6 linked regions of the Homo sapiens genome follow. The protein of the gene in region 1 purifies or fractionates together with the protein of each later gene. This does not show direct contact. Each region holds a gene or a part of one and is shown on either strand. Other genes may lie near its edges.

Region 1 (3,500 bases):
GACACAAACACATGGAAGAACATTCCATGCTCATGGATAGGAAGAATCAATATCGTGAAAATGGCCATACTGCCCAAGGTAATTTATAGATTCAATGCCATTCCCATCAAGCTACCAATGACTTTCTTCACAGAATTGGAAAAAACTACTTTAAAGTTCATATGGAACCAAAAAAGAGCCCACATAGCCAAGACAATCCTAAGCAAAAAGAACAAAGCTGGAGGCATCACACTACCTGACTTCAAACCATACTACAAGGCTACAGTAACCAAAACAGCATGGTACTGGTACCAAAACAGAGATATAGACCAATGGAACCGAACAGAGCCCTCAGAAATAATACCGCACATCTACAACCATCTGATCTTTGACAAACCTGACAAAAACAAGCAATGGGGAAAGGATTCCCTATTTAATAAATGGAGCTGGGAAAACTGGCTAGCCATATGTAGAAAGCTGAAACTGGATCCCTTCCTTACACCTTATACAAAAATCAATTCAAGATGGATTAAAGACTTAAATGTTAGACCTAAAACCATAAAAACCCTAGAAGAAAACCTAGGCAATACCATTCAGGACATAGGCATGGGCAAACACCTCATGACTAAAACACCAAAAGCAATGGCAACAAAAGCCAAAATAGACAAATGGGATCTAATTAAACTAAAGAGCTTCTGCACAGCAGAAGAAACTACCATCAGAGTGAACAGGCAACCTACAGAATGGGAGAAAATTTTTGCAATCTACCCATATGACAAAGGGCTAATATCCAGAATCTACAAAGAACTTAAACAAATTTACAAGAAAAAAACAAACAACCCCATCAAAAAGTGGGCAAAGGATATGAACAGACACTTCTAAAAAGAAGACATTTATGCAGCCAACAGACACATGAAAAAATGCTTATCATCACTGGTCATCAGAGAAATGCAAATCAAAACCACAATGAGATACCATCTCTTGCCAGTTAGAATGGCAATCATTAAAAAGTCAGGAAACAACAGATGCTGGAGAGGATGTGGAGAAATTGGAACACTTACACTGTTGGTAGGAGTGTAAACTAGTTCAACCACTGTGGAAGACAGTGTGGTGATTCTTCAAGGATCTAGAACTAGAAATACCATTTGACCCAGTGATTGCATTACTGGGTATATACTCAAAGGATTATAAATCAAGCTACTATAAAGACACATGCACGTGTATATTTATTGTGGCACTATTCACAATAGCAAAGACTTGGAACCAACCCAAATGTCCATCAATGGTAGACTAGATTAAGAAAATGTGGCACATATACACCATGGAATACTATTGCAGCCATAAAAAATGATGAGTTCATGTCATTTGCAGGGACATGGATGAAGCTGGAAACCATCATTCTCAGCAAACTATCACAAGGACAGAAAACCAAACACCGCGTGTACCACTCATAGGTGGAAATTGAACAACGAGAACACTTGGACACAGGGCAGGAGACATCACACACTGGGTCCTGTCGGGGGGTGGGGGACTGGGGGAAGGATAGCACTGGGAGAAATGCCTAGTGTAAATGACGAGTTGATGAGTGCAGCAAACCAACATGGCACACGTATACCTATGTAACAAACCTGCACATTGTGCACATGCACCCTAGAACTTAAAGTATAATTAAAAAAAAAAAAGGAATGAGTGCTTAATGTGACATACTGGCAAGGACATATATTGGAAAGGAAAGTACTTTCTTCTCTCTACATTCTATTGTAATTACCTATTTATTTACTTATCTGATTTCCCCATTACTTTAAGGAATAAGATGTATTTAATGATTTGCAACCTTGGCTGCACATCAGAATCACCTAGGAAGTACTTTAAAAATACAATACCTCATTTAGTCAGCTTAGAGGATAAAGCTCAGGTTTTATACTCTAGTATTAGTTAAAAGCTGCCATGTGAGTCTAATATGCAGCTTGGGTCAAAAATCACTTGTGGAGGGCACCTTAGTACTAGCACAGGGTACCTGAGTGCTAGCACAAGCTCTGGCACATAGTAGGTGTTAAATAAATATTACCTGGAAACTTGAATACAATCATTAATGTGTCTTTTATGAAACAAATATGAAACATGTGGCTTAGATTTTTACCTTCATAGGTCTGCTTTCTTTCATGGAAGAACACACAAAAAAATTCACATCCCATAGATGAACAACACATGTATTTGTGCTGCTGTAGATTATAATACTTAGTTACCAACTTAAACAATGATTTGAAATCACTCATTGCAAACATATGAATGCATTTCGGTTAATTTTTCACAGTAGCTACTCTAGCAAGTCAGTGAGCTCTCATGATATAGGTCTACAAGTATTATTCTTAAACTTTTATCAGGGCTGGGCATGGTGATTCATGCCTGTAATCCCAGTACTTTGGGAGGCTGAGGTGGGAGGATCACTTGAGCCCAGGAGTTGGAGGCTACATTGAGCTATGATCACACCATGGCTCTCCTGCCTGGGCAACAGAGCAAGACTTTGTTTCTAAAAACAAAAACCAAAGAAAAAACAAAAACAAAAAGAAAAAACCCCACAATGGCATATTTAAGATGGAGCAGAAAAATATATCTGTTAGCTTATAATTGTGTTAAAGCAAAAGTATGTGTTATACTTATGTGTACTCAAATATAAGGGTGTTTTTGTACCACAATTGTGCAAATTTTAACTTCTGCTTTTTCTAGAAATTAATTTCTTTCCCCAACACATATTATCAGGCATTTTTTGAATATAGCATTGTTCAGTGGTTAATTGCAAATGGCTTATTCTAGTTACCTTATTTTCGAAGTCTATTACTAGACATATTTGTATGAGGGTCATAGGAGGTAGTTTTTCTATGAATTATCTTTTATCTTGAATAACTCACCACTGAGTCCATATCTACTTTTTTTTAAAGTTCCAACTAAGTAATCTTATGTTAAATAAGGTTTGATTGGGGTTTGGGGATGAATCTCACTTCTTGTGTAAAACAGTAAAAATGGAACAGTTATAATGTTTCTATATTATTTAGGAGAGGCCTTGATAGATGAACCACAGGAAAGGTATTGTACAAATTGGTGCTATATGCTGAATATTTTCTGATAAAGTTGAATTTTTGAGTAGGTTTTTTTCTCATAGGCAGAAATGATATAAGAACAGAAACTATAACTCTCAACTTTTATTGTAGCAAAGCATACCACTTATTGTAGAAAAGCATAACACATTCAAATGGCATCTAGTTAAATGCTTGTTTTAACTTACAGAATGAATGAGTGAGAAAAAATTGTCCAAAGATTACCATGGTGGAAAGACTAATATAAGCCTCACAAATCAACACCTAAGGAAAAGACTTAACAATACAGTGGATGCTGATCTCCATATTGGATTATGGATCAAAATTTTCTGGTGATTAATAAATATCAAGTATTATGCACAAATCCAGATTTCCTGAAACAGAATCTTGGAGGTGGTTGTAGAGGAAAAAATGGTGGGAAAGAAT
Region 2 (3,107 bases), on another chromosome or scaffold:
CAAGCAAAGATAAAATTTTTTTTTGCAACTCTTGTTCTTACTATATAAACTTAAATTGTTTTTTATTAAATCTAGGTGTAAAGACTTTATGCAAAGCTCTTATACAACCATAAATTTAAATGCAAATACAACTACAAACCAGTAACACCTCTTATATTAACAATGTTAATTTAACCAATTCTTTTTATGTGACATTTTTGCAGACTTTCCCCAAAACAGATCTACTGCTTGACAGTGAATCTCAGGGAAGTGGAGTTTTCCTTCCTGAACTGGATGAGCCTGAGTACTGCAATGCTCAGAACACTGCTCTGTGGGAACTGCATGCTCTGCGGGTAAGAGTGGCCCTGGTTTTTTTCTTTTTGGGGATGTTTGTGAATAATTGTTTTCCAGTTTTTCTTCAAATAGTTGTTATTGCCAGAGTACTTAATTATATTTTGTTCTGGGGCTGCCTTTTTTAGAATTCCTGTGTTAGTATGCTACATTTTACTTTGCTGTTACTATTCTTTAAGCTGTTGAGGTACATTTTCTAAGGAAGCAGAAAACAGTGTCAGTTCTGTAGGGTGCAGTTGTGGAAGATTTACTGAAACCTTTCCCTTTATTGAAATCTTTCCCTAACACTCTTCAGAGGATTTGTTATCAGGTACATTTCTGTTGAGTCTTATCCAAGGAGACTTTAGTAAGCCCTGTTTCAAGATGGTTTCACCTATGCAGTGATCCTACAGTATGGACAGCATTAGAGTGAGACTTGTAGAAAATAGAAGTGGCAGGTAACCTGTTGTAAATTAACTTTTTTCACTCTGAAAGAGGAATTGCTTTTTGATTTTTCTATTTATATTGTAAAAGCAAGACTAAACTACTTCACTGGTAACTTGATTTGTGTTTTAATCCTATTAGCAAAGATAATATTCTTTCTGTGGGTATGTGCTTCTAATGAATTACATATACTGTACATAGGTGATGAAAAAAAATTTGGTGTAATTTTATTTAAGAAAATCTTTGCTGTGGCTAGTGTTTTTTGTAAAGGACTGACCTGTGCAGAATGTGATTGTCCCGTTTTCCCTTCAGAGGCATTATCATCCCATAGTGCAGAGATTTGCAGCCCACCTGATCGCTGGAGCACCTTCTGAAGGCTCTGGAGCACTCAAACCAGAGTTGAGTCGAAGGTAATATTTAGCATTGCCTTATTCTAAAACTACAGAATTGAGCTGATAGCCACTTACTATGAGAAGACTGTTTCATAAAGTAACATACTACAAAATGTAAAGTGCCAGTTGGGTATCTGGATTGGTCTTGCTTCATATTCCTGAATTGTTCTGAAAGAAAACATGCTATGATTTTGTTGATCACTTAAAACATTTTTTTTCTTCTTCTGTCATTCAACTTGAAAAACATTTTTTTAATCGTGAAAAGTTTCGCACATACAGGATAGTAGAATGGCATAGTGAATGTCCATATGCCCCCCATCACTCAGGTTCAACAATGAATAATCTATGGCTATAGGTGCTTCATGTGAAGATAAAACACAAGTCAACCAAATTAAGCTTCCTTGCTTTCTCGCTCGCTCGGTCTTTTTTTTTTTTTTGAATGGCCCTGTTAGGGCAGGATGAGGAGAAAAAAAAAATGAGGAGAGGGAAGAAAAGAGGTGCTTTGGAACACTGCCATCCAGAAGGGCAGCTTTTTCTTTTTTTGGCCCTTGCAGAGTACCTTCTGACCTATAAGCAGCTTGGATGGGTACTTCCAGCATCTACCTCACACCCAGATGGGGAAAAGGTCCTCCTAAAAGAGTCTTCTTTTCCCTGAACTGTTTACTTACAAAATTTTCACAAGTACAGAAAGGTGAAAAATAGTAATTACTTTTTTTTTTTTTTTTTGAGATGGAGTCTCACTCTGTTGTCCAGGCTGGAGTGCAATGGCGCAATTTCGGCTCACTGCAACCTCCGCCTCCCGGGTTCAAGCGATTCTCCTGCCTCAGCTTCCCGAGTAGCTGGGATTACAGGCACCCGCCACCATGCCCAGCTAATTTTTGTAATTTTTGTAGAGATGGGGTTTCACCATGCTGGCCAGGCTGGTCTCGAACTCCTGACCTCAGGTAATCCACCTACCTTGGCCTCCTAAAGTGTTGGGATTACAGGCGTGAGCCACTGTGCCCAGCCAGTAATTACCTTTTTTTAAATACAGACAGGAAATACTTAAGTTATACAGAGAAAGAGAGAAAATGGTATAAAAAATCCCTCAGTCCATTTATGGTGCCATAAAAAATGCCTAAGACTGGGTAACTTATAAACAACAGAGGGCCAGGCTCAGTGGCTCACGCCTGTAATCCCAGCACTTTGGGAGGCCGATGCGGGTGGATCACCTGAGGTCAGGAGTTCAGGACTAGCCTGGCCAACATGGTGAAACCCCATCTCTACTAAAAATACAAAAATTAGCCAGGCGTGGTGGTGGGTTCCTGTAGTCCCAGCTACTTGGGAAGCTGAGGCAGGAGAATTGCTTGAACCCGGGAGGCGGAGATTGCAGTGAGTCGAGATCTCGCCATTGCACTCCAGCCTGGGTGACAAGAGCGAATCCGTCTGAAAAAAAAAAAACAGAAATTTATTTTCTCAGAATTCTGGAGGCTGGGAAGTTGAAGATCAAGGTGCTGGTAGGTTTGGTTGACTGATGAGGGCGCCTCTCTGCTTCTGAGATGGCATCTTGTTGCTGCATCTTCTGGAGGGGAGGAACCCCATGCCCTCACATGGCAGACAGGACAGAATGGGAGCAGTGCCACAGCTTCACTTCATGAAGCCTCTTCTATAAAGACTTTAACCCATTTATGCCAGAGGTTGCAAATTTTTTTTGTGTGTGAAAAATCAGACCTTGGCGATGACCTTGAGCAGTAGGATATAAATAACTCCTACAAGCTTAGTGTTCTGATAATGGAACACTAGTAGGCATAAATGGGTTAATCCCATTCATGGCTTAATCACCTTTTAAAGCTTTTGCCTCTTAATACCATCACATTGACTGTTAAGTTTCCGTATCTGAATTTTGGAGGGGACACATTGAAACTATAGCACCTTACAATGTACTCATTACCCAGAATTAATATTTTGCTGTAGGTTTTTTCC
Region 3 (3,500 bases), on another chromosome or scaffold:
GCTGCAGGTTTTGTGGTTGCCTTTGACTCTTCATTGGCTCACCCATGCTAGTGTTTGCCACTCCTGTCCGTTTTTCAACTGTGATTTCTTCCTAATATGAGTCATTCCTTTCTTTTTTCCTTGTCCTACCTAAGTTCTCATTACCTCCTGTCAGAATAGTCGCAGAGGCCTATTGTAGTTCCTTACCTTCAGTCTTCCTCTAATTTGTCCAACAAAACACTGTGAACTCAGTCTTCCTGAAGCTCTTCTTCCCGGAACCCTTACCTCTTTCCCTGCCTTGCATTAATGAAACGCCCTTCCCCCCATCCCCCCAGCCGCCACACACACACCCCTCACGGGGCCTGCTATTGCCTTCTCCCCTTTGGGGAGCCTACCTTGATTCTCCCCAGTCTCTAGGCTACCAGTGTGTCCCTGCTATGCATTTGACAGCACCCATCCCTCATTACAGTACTTAGTACACTCTACTGAAATTGTCGTTTGCCTCCTCCACCAGACTGTAAGCTGTGGTTACAAATACTCTGTCTTACTTCTTCTTGGGTTACCAGCACCTGTACATTGTGTTAATTATTCTGTCAGTGAAATACATCCTTAATTCTTAGCTTGGCAGTTCTCCAGTGTGGCCCTGCCTCTCCTGTGTTCCTCTACACGTGGGTTTTCTCACCTTTGTCCCTTTGCCAGTCCATTTGTTTTGCCTGGAATCCTTCCTTAAAGTACCATTTTTGCCTATGAAAGTATTTTTCAGTATGTGGCTAAAAATGTCCCTTCTTCAAAGCTTTTCCGATACTTTATATCATTAAGTGATATTTTTTCCTCTGCATTATTCCTGTACTTTATTGCCTTATGTTGTACTTATGTATTAATATCTTTAATGACAGGATGTAGGCCGGGTGCAGTGGTTGATGCCTGTAACCCAGCACTTTGGGAGGCCAAGGCAGATCACTTGAGTTCAGAAGTTCGAGACCAGCCTGGCCAACATGGCAAAACTACGTTTCTACTAAAAATACGAAAACTAGCTGGGCATGGTGGCGGGGGCCTGTAATCCCAGCTACTCGGGAGGCTGAGATGGGAGAATCGCTTGAACCTGAGAGGCGGAAGTTGCAGTGAGCCGAGATTGTGCCACTGCACTCCAGCCTGGGCGACAAAGCGAGATTCTGTCTCAAAAACAAACAAAATAAAACAAAACCAAACAAATAACGGGACGTAGACGCTGTACAGAAGGCACCCAATAAATGTGTTTTGATGATGTCATTCACATGTTGATTATTCATTTAGCCATTTCTGTGTCTTGTACTGTTTTTTTGAGGTTTGAGAGTTTGACTATGTTAGCAATTTTAGCAAGATAAACTGCAAACAGAAGAAATAGTTAAAATTTCATAGTTTTACTATGTAAACTATCAGGTTACTGAGAAAGAAAATAGGTTTTCCAGAAAAGATTTATAATAACTACCCTACATGGCATTTATGTTCTAGATTGTGAACTTGCAGGGTTGGTATCTTTTCACCTTGATCTTCTCAGTACCTGGTTGCATTTGGCATGTTGTCGACAGCTGTAGTTGTTGACGTGTATTTCTGCCTCTTCCATAAAGTTTTCCCTACCTGCCCCATCCACTCTTAAAGGAGGCTATATATGACTGGAAATAAAGTGAACCTGAATATAAAGGGGATTCCCTTACCTGCATGATGGACACCATGCATTTTTTTGGCTAATATATAAACTCTTAGAGATACAGGTGATATGTCTTTTTATATTATTCATCAGTTCAGTTAGACATATTTAAAAATTTATTAGAATACACGATAAAATGTTAATTTATAAACATTTCTTTTTCCTTAACATTTTTCCTTTTTTTTTTTTTTTTTTTGAGACGGAGTCTCGTTCTGTCGCCCAGGCTGGAGTGCAGTGGTGCCATCTGGGCTCACTGCAAGCTCCGCCTCCCGGGTTCACGCCATTCTCCTGCCTCAGCCTCCTGAGTAGCTGGGACTACAGGCGCCCGCCACCACGTCTGGCTAATTTTTTTGTATTTCTAGTAGAGATGGGGTTTCACCGTGTTAGCCAGGATGGTCTCAACCTCCTGACCTCGTGATCCGCCCGCCTTGGCCTCCCAAAGTGCTGGGATTACAGGTGTGAGCCACCGCGCCCGGCCTTTTCCTTACATTTTTCATGTGTCTTTCATCGTCGGTGTCTCTTCCTGGAGTCCTCCCTGTAGGAGTCATCTGATGCAATTTGAGAGCCCGGTATCTTAACTTCTGTCTGGGTTTTTGAGTCCCTGCCTGTTAAATCTGAGCATGATGGTTTCATTGGAAAAACTTATCCTAAGCCACGAGCTTCGTTTCATATAGCATTAAGATGATTGGCCAGCCGTGGTGGCTCATGTTTGTAATCCCAGCACTTTGGGAGGCCAAGGTGGGCGGATCACGAGGTCAGGAGATCGAGACCATCCTGGCTAACCTGATGAAACCGCATCTCTACTAAAAATACAAAAAATTAGCCGGGCGTGGTGGCGGGCGCCTGTAGTCCCAGCTACTCAGGAGGCTGAGGCAGGAGAATGTTGTGAACCCAGCAGGTGGAGCTTGCAATGAGCCGACATCATGCCACTGCACTCCAGCCTGGGTGACAGTGTGAGACTCCATCTCAACAGGAAAAAAAAAAAAAAATTAGGACAGTTGTTTCTGATTTGTTTATTTCCCTAGAATGTTTTTGATCACAGTGTACTGGAGTTAGATACTTAGACTTCACTTAAAATATTAATTTGAGGTAATACTTCAAATACTGTCTTTAATACTTTTTTTTTTCTCTTGAAAGATTCCAGCAGAGGGAACGCTATCCAAAAAGTTGGCAGCAATAAAGTAAGTTTATAATTAGAGAAAGGGAGTCACCTTAAACTTTCTTCCTTTTTGGCTAAAAAGTGAGACCATTTCTTAACAATTGCATAGATTTTATTAATATATTTGGATAATAGAGCATGATTGACTGTTTGCTTCTGTATTTGAGAGCCTTTAGATTTGTCACGTTTTTCTTTAAGCCATAATATAATTTACAGAGTCGTAGAAAATATTACTGGAAAATGAGCCATGAGAAATTTTAAGAATGTTTTTAGTGTTTGGAAGAGAGTGTAAAGCTTCATGCCTAAATTTTCTCATACAGATTACAAATGCCATATTTCCTGTGTTTTTCCAGAGAGAATTCATGTTTGCTTGTGCTGGTCACCTGGGTATACTGCCAGCCTGTGACCACTTGGCGTTCTCTGTTTGAGGGTTTTGGACCACACTGGTGGTGGCTTGTTACCAGTGCTCAGGGGATTTTTTTTGTTTCCCACTCAGTGTCAAGAATGAAACCTACAAGTCTCCTTGTTCGCCCTTCCATATGGAAGGCTTATTTTTCATTTACCTTCAGCTTTATGCCGGTTTCCTATTAGTCTCATATCTTGGGTGTTTTTCTCTCTTAATGGTATATGAAATGATGAAGTTTATAAGCAGATATTTCTTTATATTAGATAAAA
Region 4 (3,500 bases), on another chromosome or scaffold:
CCTGAAAATGGTGAGGCAAACCAGAGACTGGCCATTCTATTAAACTAATTCTTTTAAAAATGGGACAGGCAGCCGACTGCAGTGGCTCACACCTGTAATCCCTGCACTTTGGGAAGCTGAGGTGGGTGGATCACCTGAGGTAAGGAGTTTGACCAGCCTGGCCAACATGATGAAACCCCATCTCTACTAAAAATACAAAAAATTAGCTGGGAGTGATGGCACGCACTTGTAATCCCAGCTACTCAGGAGGTTGAGGCAGGAGAATCGCTTGAACCTGGGAGGCAGAGATTGTAGTGAGCCAAGATCGCACCACTGCACTCCAGCCTGGGCAACAAGAGCAAAACTCCGTCTCAAAAAAAAAAAAAAAAAGAAAAAGAAACAGGCATGACAACAAATCAGAGTTACCACCAAGTGTATCACACACTCTTGCCCTCACTAACAGGAATATGAAACACAACGAAACATAATGGAAAGGTTTCCATGCAGGATAGCAGGAGGAAGCTCGCCAACTATTCAGAGAGCCAGCAGCAGCTGTCCATTCTCCAGGAAAAGGTTATGGACATGCTGAAATGTGTGTCTACACATGTATTTTAAAACAAGAAACAAAAGAGACACAAAAATCACTTAAATTTGGTTGATAAAAAACTTGTGGGGAGGTCCCTTAATTTGGACTTTAATATTCCTATTAATTTTTACTAGTAAAAGTAAAAAATCATTATGAAAATGCACAGAAGCACAAATACTCAAAACAAGGAAGCTCATCTCCTCGCACCTATTTTACTTCTTTATTTTCCAGGAGTCATTCCCTGTAACAAACATTGAAAACATTTTTTCAGTATCCCACTCTATCCAACTGAACATTTACTCTTGTCTTTTTGGTTGACCCTAATTCTTACTACTAAGAAACGACATGGTCACATGCTATATTTTGGCCAAATTCTTTTCAGGGAAGCACAGAAAACAGCGGCGCTCATGCAGCCCACCTTCTGGATGAGACGTCTCTTGCGGTTCAGAGCCAAGGGCAGAACTGGATGGAAAGCCAGTCTTTCCATTTAACAGGTGGAGAGAATGAGTAGCTAAGTGAGACGACAACCCTTTATGGTCGATAACCTGGCACTGTGTTCCAACGCCAAGACACAAATTTGCTCTGCCTTGCACACACAGGTTTCGTCCGGTTATACCCACGTAATGCCTAAGAAATCAAGAGGAGCCTGAAGTTCTTACCTGGTCATACTAGACATTTTTAAGACCGTATTTATTGTGGAAATCTAAAAGAGGAGATGAAAAAGCTTTAATTAATATTTTGATACAAAATATTTAACGGAAATTACACAAGAAAGGAGAAACTATTGAGAGAACATTGACTACTATGATCAAATTAAGTTCCTCCACCCAGGTGGTGCTCTCTACTTGGGGCGATTCTGCCACCCGCCCTAACTCCCTGGGGACACAGGGCAAAGTCTGGAAAAATTTGTGCTTGTTATAACCAGGGGAGGGGGGCACTGCTGGCATCTAGTGGGTAGAGGCCTGGGATGCTGCTGAACATCCTACAGTGCACAGGACAGTCCCCAAAACTAAGACTGACCTAGTCCAAAATGTCCACAGCACCAAGGCTGAGAAACCCTGATCCACCCCCCAGGTGAGAAAACAAGTTTAGGTAACCCACCCTACAGAAGGGGTAGTAAGCTGTAACCGAAAGTGCAGAGGAAACCAAGCCTGCCTAAAAGTTAATATATTTTTTTCTTCTTACTCATGAGTCTGGAGAACTCACTTTTTTTCCTTTAAAGTGTCCATTTGTTTGTAGAACACACACCAAAATACTCTTCTTCCCTTACTTCTCTAAAACTGTGGACGTCCTTTAACAGCAAGATGCCAGCACAGTTCCCTCTCCTATGGCCACTGTGACATCTGCCACCACAAATGGCTTCACCACTACAACTATCCAGTAAATAGGGAGCTGTTTTAAGTTTAGCAAGTGATGTCCTGACCCTAAATCACGTTAGTCGAGGAAAGTCTTCAATACTTAAAAAAACACACACACAAAAACACAAAAAAACAGAGGATGGGGGAAGGGGGGGCCAGAAAACAGTGAACAGTAACCTAAGCACCCTTGAACTGTCCTAGAAGAGTATCATATCAATCTGAGTTCATTCAGGTAACTTAGAGCAGAAACAAACACTCTCTGATCTCTCCTCCTAGAGCGGCCATTTCACAGACCTTCTGAACGGACAAACACACCAAAAAAAACTGACCCAGAAAACACTGAAAGGTACTTACTAAATGTGGGTGGAGGCCCAGCTCATGAAAAGCAGCTGAAGTAAACACTTTTTCTTGCACCTGCTTTACCACAGGTCTGCAAATGATGAACAAGAACCCAGGCATCAGTGCCAATATTAACAAAGAAAAGGCAGAACACATTTTTTTCTTCCTGAAGGGCATCCGCCCCTGGACATACCTGTGGAGTTCTGGAATGTCAGGGTTGTTTTTAAACAGTGATGAAGTCTTAATGCACTGTCTCTCCTCCTGGTTTCTATCACTTGTGCTAACCGAATGCTTCTTTGGAGAAAACATTTTTTGTGCGTTCCCCTTAAAAGTCCTCTGAGTTTCTTTAACACTAGTTTTCTTGGCTGGGAGAAATGAAGTTTCGTTCCTCCGTTTCGCTGGGGGAGCCTCACTGGACGCTTGGTATTTTCTTTTCGTAGCCTTTGCTTGCTGCGTTGTTCCCAGAAGGAAAGATCAACAAGAGATGCATTAGTCCATGAAAACAGAGCTCGGAGTGAAGCCTGACTGCCCACAGAATTGCATCTCTCCCTGCAGAGATCATTATGCCCCATATGTCAAGCAACAGTTTAGGGTTTGCAATCAGACTCTTTGACTCAGCTTCTTCCAAAAGGTAAAGAAAAGAAAAAAGAAAAAAGTCTCAGCTCACTCATCTACCAGACCTCACCAGCCATTCTTAACTGTTAAATCAATCAAGATAAGGTAAGGATGAAGAAGCAGCATTTTTCCAGTTGAATGTTAACTAATGGAGTCTGTTTTAAGGGAAGCAAGAATCCACCTTGTGAAGGGTGTGTCAATCCATATTCCTAGGAACCCATTCACCCAAGGAGAAAAGAGGGGTGGGGGAAAACGAATCTTTTCTCTCCACCAACAAAGCACACTGGAGACCGCACAGGAGAGAGGGGCGAGGGGGAATGCGCATCTCAGCCCGTGCCCAGGAAGCGGAAACATTCATTACCATTCTACCCTAGCGCCTGGATCTCTCTCATTCTCTCCTCTCAAGCTGCTCCTCCAGATTCAGACGGCCTGGAGAAAATTCCTACGCCCTGTTCCCATTCCAAATGAGAATGCTGCTCCATCCATCACCTCTACCACAATTACTTCCTACCTCCCTTGCCTTTCGAGTCTCTGAGTCCCCGAGTCTCTGCCTGATTGCGGATTACAGGCTACACAGCACTAGGGATCTCTTGCCTGTTGCTTCTTATTTCCATTACAGGAAT
Region 5 (3,500 bases), on another chromosome or scaffold:
AACATGAAAGAAAAAGGACTCCAGTGGCAAGCATATACTTCAAGCCAAAGTATATGCTTGAAGAATTTGATCATTTAAATTATGTGAACTAATTATTGCAATAATGACGAGGACTTCTTTGTGGCCTTCCCATAAAGAGAATTTTATTTATTTATTTATTTTTTTTTTGAGACGGAGTCTCGCTCTGTCTCCCAGGCTAGAGTGCTGTGGCGCAATCTTGGCTCACTGCAACTTCCACCTCCCCAGGTTCAAGCGATTCTCCTGCCTCAGCCTCCCTAGTAGCTGGGACTACAGGTGCGTGCCGCCATGCCCAGCTGATTTTTTGTATTTTTAGTAGTGACAGGGTTTCATTGTGTTAGCCAGGATGGTCTCGATCTCCTGACCTCGTGATCCACCCGCCTCAGCCTCCCAAAATTCTGGGATTACAGGCGTGAGCCACCGCGCCCAGCTATAAAGAGAATTTTAAAATGCCACTTCTTTCTTAAAACCAAATCACATAAGTACAATTCTAACACTTATACTAAGCGAGTGATTTCCATCCTCCTTTGGAATTCTCTGCTTCTAGAATTGTTTCCCATATGCTTAGGATGACAAAGTATTATGGATAGAACTTCACTATAACAATGGTATCTGGGGATAAAGATAATAACTACATTTAGGTTTTCCACAATAAAATGTATTTTTCATCATGATATATCTTTTACTGCCCCTCAACCCAACAATTTGACCTAAATGGCTGCATGGGCAAGAATTTACTATTAGTTAGTCATGTTTATTTACACTTTGTCTTATTCTAAAAAAGATGAAAAGCTAAGAATCATTCAGGGGTTTTACGGTAGTAAGACTTATAAATTTACATTATTTTCTCTTCTCAAGAATAACTGCTCAAGAGTTATGGCTTAATAAAGTTCAGTCACTCAACAGATATTGAATATGTATTATGTATAAGACTGTTTCCAACTCATTAAACTACTGTGTTTCTGTGTAAAACATAGAGTTTACAAAATTTAAAATAAGTGAAGTCTAATTTCTATGTACAAAATACTGTGTACAAAATGGGATAGAGAGAAGATTAAACAAACATACAACTTGTGAAGTGACACTGTTTCTTCATAAACTTCTGGTTGAGTTTTCTAATACTTTACATCTGAACCCTCTGGCATATATTCTGAAAACTGATGTTATTAGTGATTTAGTGGCTTCAGCTGGCTGTTAAACATGGATTAAGATGGACCACCAAGTGGCTTATCCCAGTGCTGGACAAGATAACCTATCTTCAACTTACCAGCACCCGTTTACTTTTTTAAATATTTGGATTCCCGTGTTTCTTAACTGCCTTAGGCCAGGGTGCCCAAATTGCTTATAGCATTCATCTAAGGATTTAGAGAAAAAATCCAGGCTCAGCCAGAAAAGAGTATATTGACTGGTTATTGATGTCTGCCCTGATGCACCAAGGATGCATGTATTTTCTACTCCTCTTTTTTTTTTTTTTCTTTTTTTTGGAGACAGTTTCCCTCTGTTGCCCAGGCTGGAATACAATGGCGTGATCTCAGCTCACTGCAACCTCTGCCTCCTGGGCTCAAGCAATTCTTGTGCCTCAGCCTCCTGAGTAGCAGGGATTACAGGCATGCACCACCATGCCCAGATAATGTTTATAATTTTAGTAGAGATGGGGTTTCACCATGATGGCCAGGCTGGTCTCGAACTCCTGACCTCAGGTGATCTGCCCTCCTTGGCCTCCCAAAGTGCTGGGATTACAGGTGTGAGCCACTGTGCCCGGCCCTCTATTCCTAATACATGCTGGTCAGCAAATAATTGATTCTAACAGCCACAACAGAGGCAGCACAGTGTGCTTATCCCTGAAAAACCTGAGATAAAAGGCAAGAGAGAAAGGAAAAAAGGGAAAAGATAAGGAAAAAAACCAAAAAGATCATGAGAAGAAAAATAAAGACGGGAAAAGGAGAAGAGGTGGTTATACATGCCATAAAGGAGCATTAGTACTCCATGTTGATGGGTCTATGTTTCTTTCCATTTGTTATGCTCCCACCACTGACTGGCCAATCTTCTCTCTACCAATACCTGTTATAGATCAACAGATCACCATTTGCTTCTCTGAAGGCCTCCAGATGATTTCTGGATGAACCTTCCACTGTCTATTCTAAAGGCCCACGTTTTCCATTCTCCCACACTGCACTGATCCCCATGACACTTTATGTCCAGAATGCTACTCTCTGGCCATTCCTGTCATCCCCAAACATTTTTGTTTTTAATTCCAACATAACATTTTCACCTTCCAAAAACCTTTATAGAGAAGATGAAACCTTACTTTGCCCTCATGGTCTGGCAATGACATACCAATAGCTACTGATTCTCTCTAAATGTTTCCCCAAAACACTTAGCCATGAAAAAAAAAAAAAAACAATTAAGTTCAAAGGAATTTATGGGACACTCCAAATTGCAGTATAACTTTTGATGTTTTAAGCTGTGTCACCATTTTACTTTACCTGGCTTTTCTTCCTCCCCTTCAGCAAGCTTGCTTTTGGGAGGAGTTTCCCGGGTAGAATTCACAGTTCGACGAATCGGCATGGTGCTATCTTCTACCTTCTAAGAAAAGAGATGGCCATAATCAAACATGCATTAAAAAATTCTCTTTTCTCTCTTTCTCAAAGGGCCTAACTGGGTGTCAGATGTAGGAGAATTCTTCAAGTCGACTCCAGGATCTGATGCAAATTACTTTTAACAAGTTTTTTTTGAAGTGAAATATGATTTTTAAGATACACTTTTTAAAGTATGTTATTTTAGCTTGAATTTCAAATGGAAACACATAATTATAGTTGATTTGCTATAAATTTAGAAGGTTGGAGGTTTTCTCAGGAATTTGAGGGGAAAGGGAAGATGAAAAGAATCTGATTTTGTTTCAAATTCACAACCTAGACTCCCCAAAGTAAGGGAAGGAACATGTACCAAGAAGGACCCAGCAGGGCCTGAAGTCAGGGATTGATCCAAGAGTGAGCTTCAAGAATGTGTCAGCCCCTACCTCACCTAACTTGTCCGCGTGGATCAGCTGAGCTCCTACTATAAGTGGGAGTGCCTTAGGATGGACGAGTTCACCTTGAGACGTATCAGTCGCCATTTTAAATAATTTCTAGGCCCGAGTACAGGTTACACTCTGAAGCCTCTGCTGTTAACCACAAGGATTTTTCCTAATGGTTTCAGTGTGGTGAAGAATCAACCTAAAGCACAGAAAAGACCTGGTGTGAAGATTAACAGAAACAAAACTAAACTAAAACGTCTAAATTTAATACACATCCAAAGGGAAAAAATATAACTATAAAATTTATAGGTAAGTGACAGATGATTTGGTTACTCAGAAAGATAAAACTACCAAAATATAGACTACATAAAGCAGCAACTAAGACGAATGCATAAGCCACGGCAGCTGTTGCACCTTCCACATGAACAAAGACAACAAGGGCAAGGAAGCTCCTAAGGAACCTAAC
Region 6 (3,500 bases), on another chromosome or scaffold:
GGATGTTAAAAAACAAACTAGGCTGGGCTCAGTGACTCACGCCTGTAATCCCAGCACTTTGGGAGGCTGAGGCAGGTGGATCACTTGAAGTCAGGAGTTCGAGACCAGCCTGGCCAACATGGTGAAACCCTGTCTCTACTAAAAAAATACAAAAATTAGCCGGGTATGGTGGTGTGCACCTGTAGTCCCAGCTACTCAGGAGGCTGAGGCAAGAGAATCACTTGAACCCAGAAGGTGGAGGTTGCAGTGAACTGAGATTGTGCCACTGCACTCCAAACTGAGCGACACAGCAAGACTCCATCTCAAACAGAAAAACAAACAAAACTGGTAGCTTCAGAATCACCTCTGAAACAATGGCTAACAGTAATAAACAATTCTATTATCTGGGGAACAAAGTTGCCTTGAACAATAACCAGATCCCAGATTTTCCAACCTAGGGCCACTGCATTAACCACCAGAATGGCTCGTCTGTTGGTAATCCTCTTGGTATATACCACAAAGACTACAAATGTTTGCTGTATATGCAAGGGAACTTTGCTGTGCAATATCAATGAGAGCTCTAAGAATGACAGAGTCAAGAATAATCTGGCCCTGTATGTCCTGGGGGAAGATGGGTAAGAGAATGAGTACTGACTGCGTGCTGACCATGCAGTATGCTAGACGATGGACATGTATTATCTCATTTAGTCCTCAGCAATCATGTGAGGCAGATGTTGTCCACCCCATTTTACAAACTGAAGTTCAGAGCGGTAATAACTGCCAAGGAACATGCAGCAAAAAGGGCAGAGCCAGAGTATGAGCATGAGTACACGTATTCCTAAAGTCCCTGCTCCACCTTCTATACCACACCAGATTAAAAACAGTACTAAAACTATCAGGCTTCACACTTCTGGAGCCAACTAATAAAAGAAAATATGGAAGAGATAACTGAAATCTACAGGTAATGGGAAACCTTAACCTCAACCATTAATTTTGGCACGTACTATCACCAAACACTGTAAAAAACGGCTGACTGGAAATAACATTGGTCTGCTTCCTCTCTCCTTCCTTTCCCTTCTGCTGTAGAGCTATCAGACATGGGCCAGCAGATAAGAAGATGGCCTGGAGAGGCTTAGGGAACTGGGAGTAAAGGGAACTAGGAGCAAAAAAACCTAACTGAGGGGAGAACTACTCTAAGAGAGCAGAAGCACAAATTGAACAAAATAGAAGAGTTTATGTCCTTAAAAATATGGACCATTTAATTTCTGTACCAAGCTGCGCTGGATCCTTAATTCCTTCATTTTAAGTTTTCTTCGATCTTCTAAAGAGAACTCCACTATTGGTCTCTGTCAGAGGGAGACAGAATGCCATTCATTAGACTTCTTAATCTGTGCATGCAATGAGCTGAGTTTTTCCCCTTCACACATCCTCCCCCAACCCACCTTTTTTTTGTCCACTTGCCACTGTTTCCCACCCCTCAAATGTCAGAGGACACTAGGCATAAAGGAGAAGGCTGGTTTCCTGCAAGTGGTCCTAAGGGAACAAGTCTCCCCAGAGGACAAGGCCTACCTTCAGAGGCCCAAAGATTTCTGGATTGTTGTTGATGAGGCGGAGGGCTTTCAGGGCATGCTCGTGCTCTTGGAACTCCGCAAAGGCGTAGCCCAGGGACTGACCCTTCATGTTCCCATGAACTCCTTTGAGGTCTCGCATCACTCTACACTATGAGTAGAGCAAGAAAAAAATCAGTAATTACAGAATGAGAAGACTTGCCTGACATGAACTGCTTTAATAGAGTCAATAAGAAATCAGGCTATTGGGTGGGCATGGTGGTTCATGCCTGTAATCCTAGCACCTTGGGAGGCCGAGACAGGAGGATTGCTTGAGGCCAGGAGTTTGAGACCAGCCTAGGCAACATGGCAAAACCTTGTCTCTACAAAAAATACAAAAAATTAGCCAGTGTGGTGGCACCTCAGCTACTCAAGAGGCTGAAGCAGGAGGATCACCTGAGCCCGGGGAGGTTGAAGTTACAGTGAGCCATGATGGCACCACTGCACTCCAGCCTGGGCAACAGAGTGAGACCCTGTCTCAAAAAAAAAAAAAAAAAATCAGGTTATTGAAACATAATCTTCATTTATACCACCATCACAAAAATCACACTGGAATAACACTTATGTGTGTCCATCTTATTAGAATTTACCTACTAAGACCATCAAACAGATTAAAATTGTATTTTCTTGCTTTCTACTAGCTTATAGACATCAACAGAGACCTAAAAAAAAGCACATAAACAAAACTTCCTAAAGAAAATTTATAAAGCGGTATGGATGTTAAAAAACAAACACAATACAAACACAACTGTTTGCGATACATACAAATTGAGAGGTACATGGTATTTTAAGCGTGTAACAAGTTGCTGCCGAGGATGGAGTACTGTCCACAGATCTTACAACTGAAAAAAGCCCTCAGGAAGGAAATTATTGAAGAAGGAAAGGAGGAAGGCCTGATGGCTTTAGATAAGAAAGACATTTCAAGCATAGGAAAAAGTCTCTCCAACATACAGGGTCAGAAATATAGGAAGAAGTTTCAGCTCTCTTTGCTTGCAGCTCAGATCCTCTCTAGTGTGGTTTTCCCTTAAATCCTTAAGCCAGATGTAGTAAACATCTGGGGCACCAAAGTATGGTAGGATTTTTCGAGAAAACTGATCATTTACATGCCATTACTACCAAAGCTGTCGTTCTCATGTAATGGAAACAGCTAAGTATTGGGGATGCATGGATGCCGCATTTAGTTTATGTCCAGTGTCCACTCTGTGCCTAGAACTGTCATACACTGTAAGGGAATCAAGAGAAGCATATAATGAAGATCCTGTTCTCAAGATGCTTACCATCTTACTGAGACACTATACATACAAATAGGAAAGAATTAAGAGGAAAATTCAACATAATGCAAAATATTCTAGAATAAACATAAATTTCTCTAAATTATGACAGGTGTTAAATATGTAGGCACTAAGTATTCGGATGATAGGAGAAATTACACAACTGTCCCTCCCCTATAACCAGTAACACTGAGCAGTTTTACTAACTGTGGTGTCAGATATGTGCTGATATATTCACATTCTCTCAAGTAATCTCCCAAATACCAATCCATACATTTTGAAGAGGTTTTCAGGGATTAGGAAAACAGTTTATGGTAGCGAAACAGAGTAAAGCAGGCCCAAAATATTGGCAATGGTACTTTTAAAATAAATATTGACTAAGAGATGACTATGTACCAGGTACTACACCAAGGATTGGGGATAATGAGATAACGCTTGCCTCAAAAACTCAGTCTAGTGGGGAGAAGTGACTGACAGACAGTTTGAGGCCAGGGTAATAGTAACCAGTATGACAGAGATATGCAAGGCCAGGCCCAGTGGTTCACTGTTATAATTCCAGCACTGTGGGAGGCCGAAGCAGGGGAATCATCTGAGCTCAGGAATTTGCGACCAGCCTGGGCAACATGACAAAACCCTGTCTCTA

What was found.
Region 2: the proteins of PTPRB (region 1) and NOC3L purify together in Homo sapiens (affinity purification with mass spectrometry; one large-scale study listed by BioGRID and IntAct). This does not show direct contact.
Region 3: the proteins of PTPRB (region 1) and RBM34 purify together in Homo sapiens (affinity purification with mass spectrometry; one large-scale study listed by BioGRID and IntAct). This does not show direct contact.
Region 4: the proteins of PTPRB (region 1) and DDX31 purify together in Homo sapiens (affinity purification with mass spectrometry; one large-scale study listed by BioGRID and IntAct). This does not show direct contact.
Region 5: the proteins of PTPRB (region 1) and HP1BP3 purify together in Homo sapiens (affinity purification with mass spectrometry; one large-scale study listed by BioGRID and IntAct). This does not show direct contact.
Region 6: the proteins of PTPRB (region 1) and RBM28 purify together in Homo sapiens (affinity purification with mass spectrometry; one large-scale study listed by BioGRID and IntAct). This does not show direct contact.

What each region holds. Positions count from the first base shown.
Region 1 is NC_000012.12:70,630,930-70,634,429, forward strand, and holds part of PTPRB (receptor-type tyrosine-protein phosphatase beta), read right to left. Parts: intron 1-3,500. UniProt on the Homo sapiens protein: Plays an important role in blood vessel remodeling and angiogenesis. Not necessary for the initial formation of blood vessels, but is essential for their maintenance and remodeling. Can induce dephosphorylation of TEK/TIE2, CDH5/VE-cadherin and KDR/VEGFR-2.
Region 2 is NC_000010.11:94,335,833-94,338,939, reverse strand, and holds part of NOC3L (nucleolar complex protein 3 homolog), read left to right. Parts: intron 1-203; coding exon 204-332; intron 333-1,065; coding exon 1,066-1,163; intron 1,164-3,107. UniProt on the Homo sapiens protein: May be required for adipogenesis.
Region 3 is NC_000001.11:235,147,751-235,151,250, reverse strand, and holds part of RBM34 (RNA-binding protein 34), read left to right. Parts: intron 1-2,803; coding exon 2,804-2,847; intron 2,848-3,500.
Region 4 is NC_000009.12:132,659,984-132,663,483, forward strand, and holds part of DDX31 (ATP-dependent DNA helicase DDX31), read right to left. Parts: intron 3,435-3,500; exon of another isoform or gene 3,389-3,434; intron 3,344-3,388; exon of another isoform or gene 3,242-3,343; coding exon of another isoform or gene 3,239-3,241; intron 2,713-3,238; coding exon 2,456-2,712; intron 2,354-2,455; coding exon 2,278-2,353; intron 1,269-2,277; coding exon 1,225-1,268; intron 1,218-1,224; exon of another isoform or gene 984-1,217; intron 1-983. UniProt on the Homo sapiens protein: May have DNA helicase activity and RNA helicase activity. Probably have ssDNA and RNA dependent ATPase activity. Plays a role in ribosome biogenesis and TP53/p53 regulation through its interaction with NPM1.
Region 5 is NC_000001.11:20,777,308-20,780,807, forward strand, and holds part of HP1BP3 (heterochromatin protein 1-binding protein 3), read right to left. Parts: intron 3,234-3,500; 5' UTR 3,134-3,233; coding exon 3,038-3,133; intron 2,605-3,037; coding exon 2,505-2,604; intron 1-2,504. UniProt on the Homo sapiens protein: Component of heterochromatin that maintains heterochromatin integrity during G1/S progression and regulates the duration of G1 phase to critically influence cell proliferative capacity.
Region 6 is NC_000007.14:128,316,409-128,319,908, forward strand, and holds part of RBM28 (RNA-binding protein 28), read right to left. Parts: intron 1,699-3,500; coding exon 1,549-1,698; intron 1,326-1,548; coding exon 1,251-1,325; intron 1-1,250. UniProt on the Homo sapiens protein: Nucleolar component of the spliceosomal ribonucleoprotein complexes.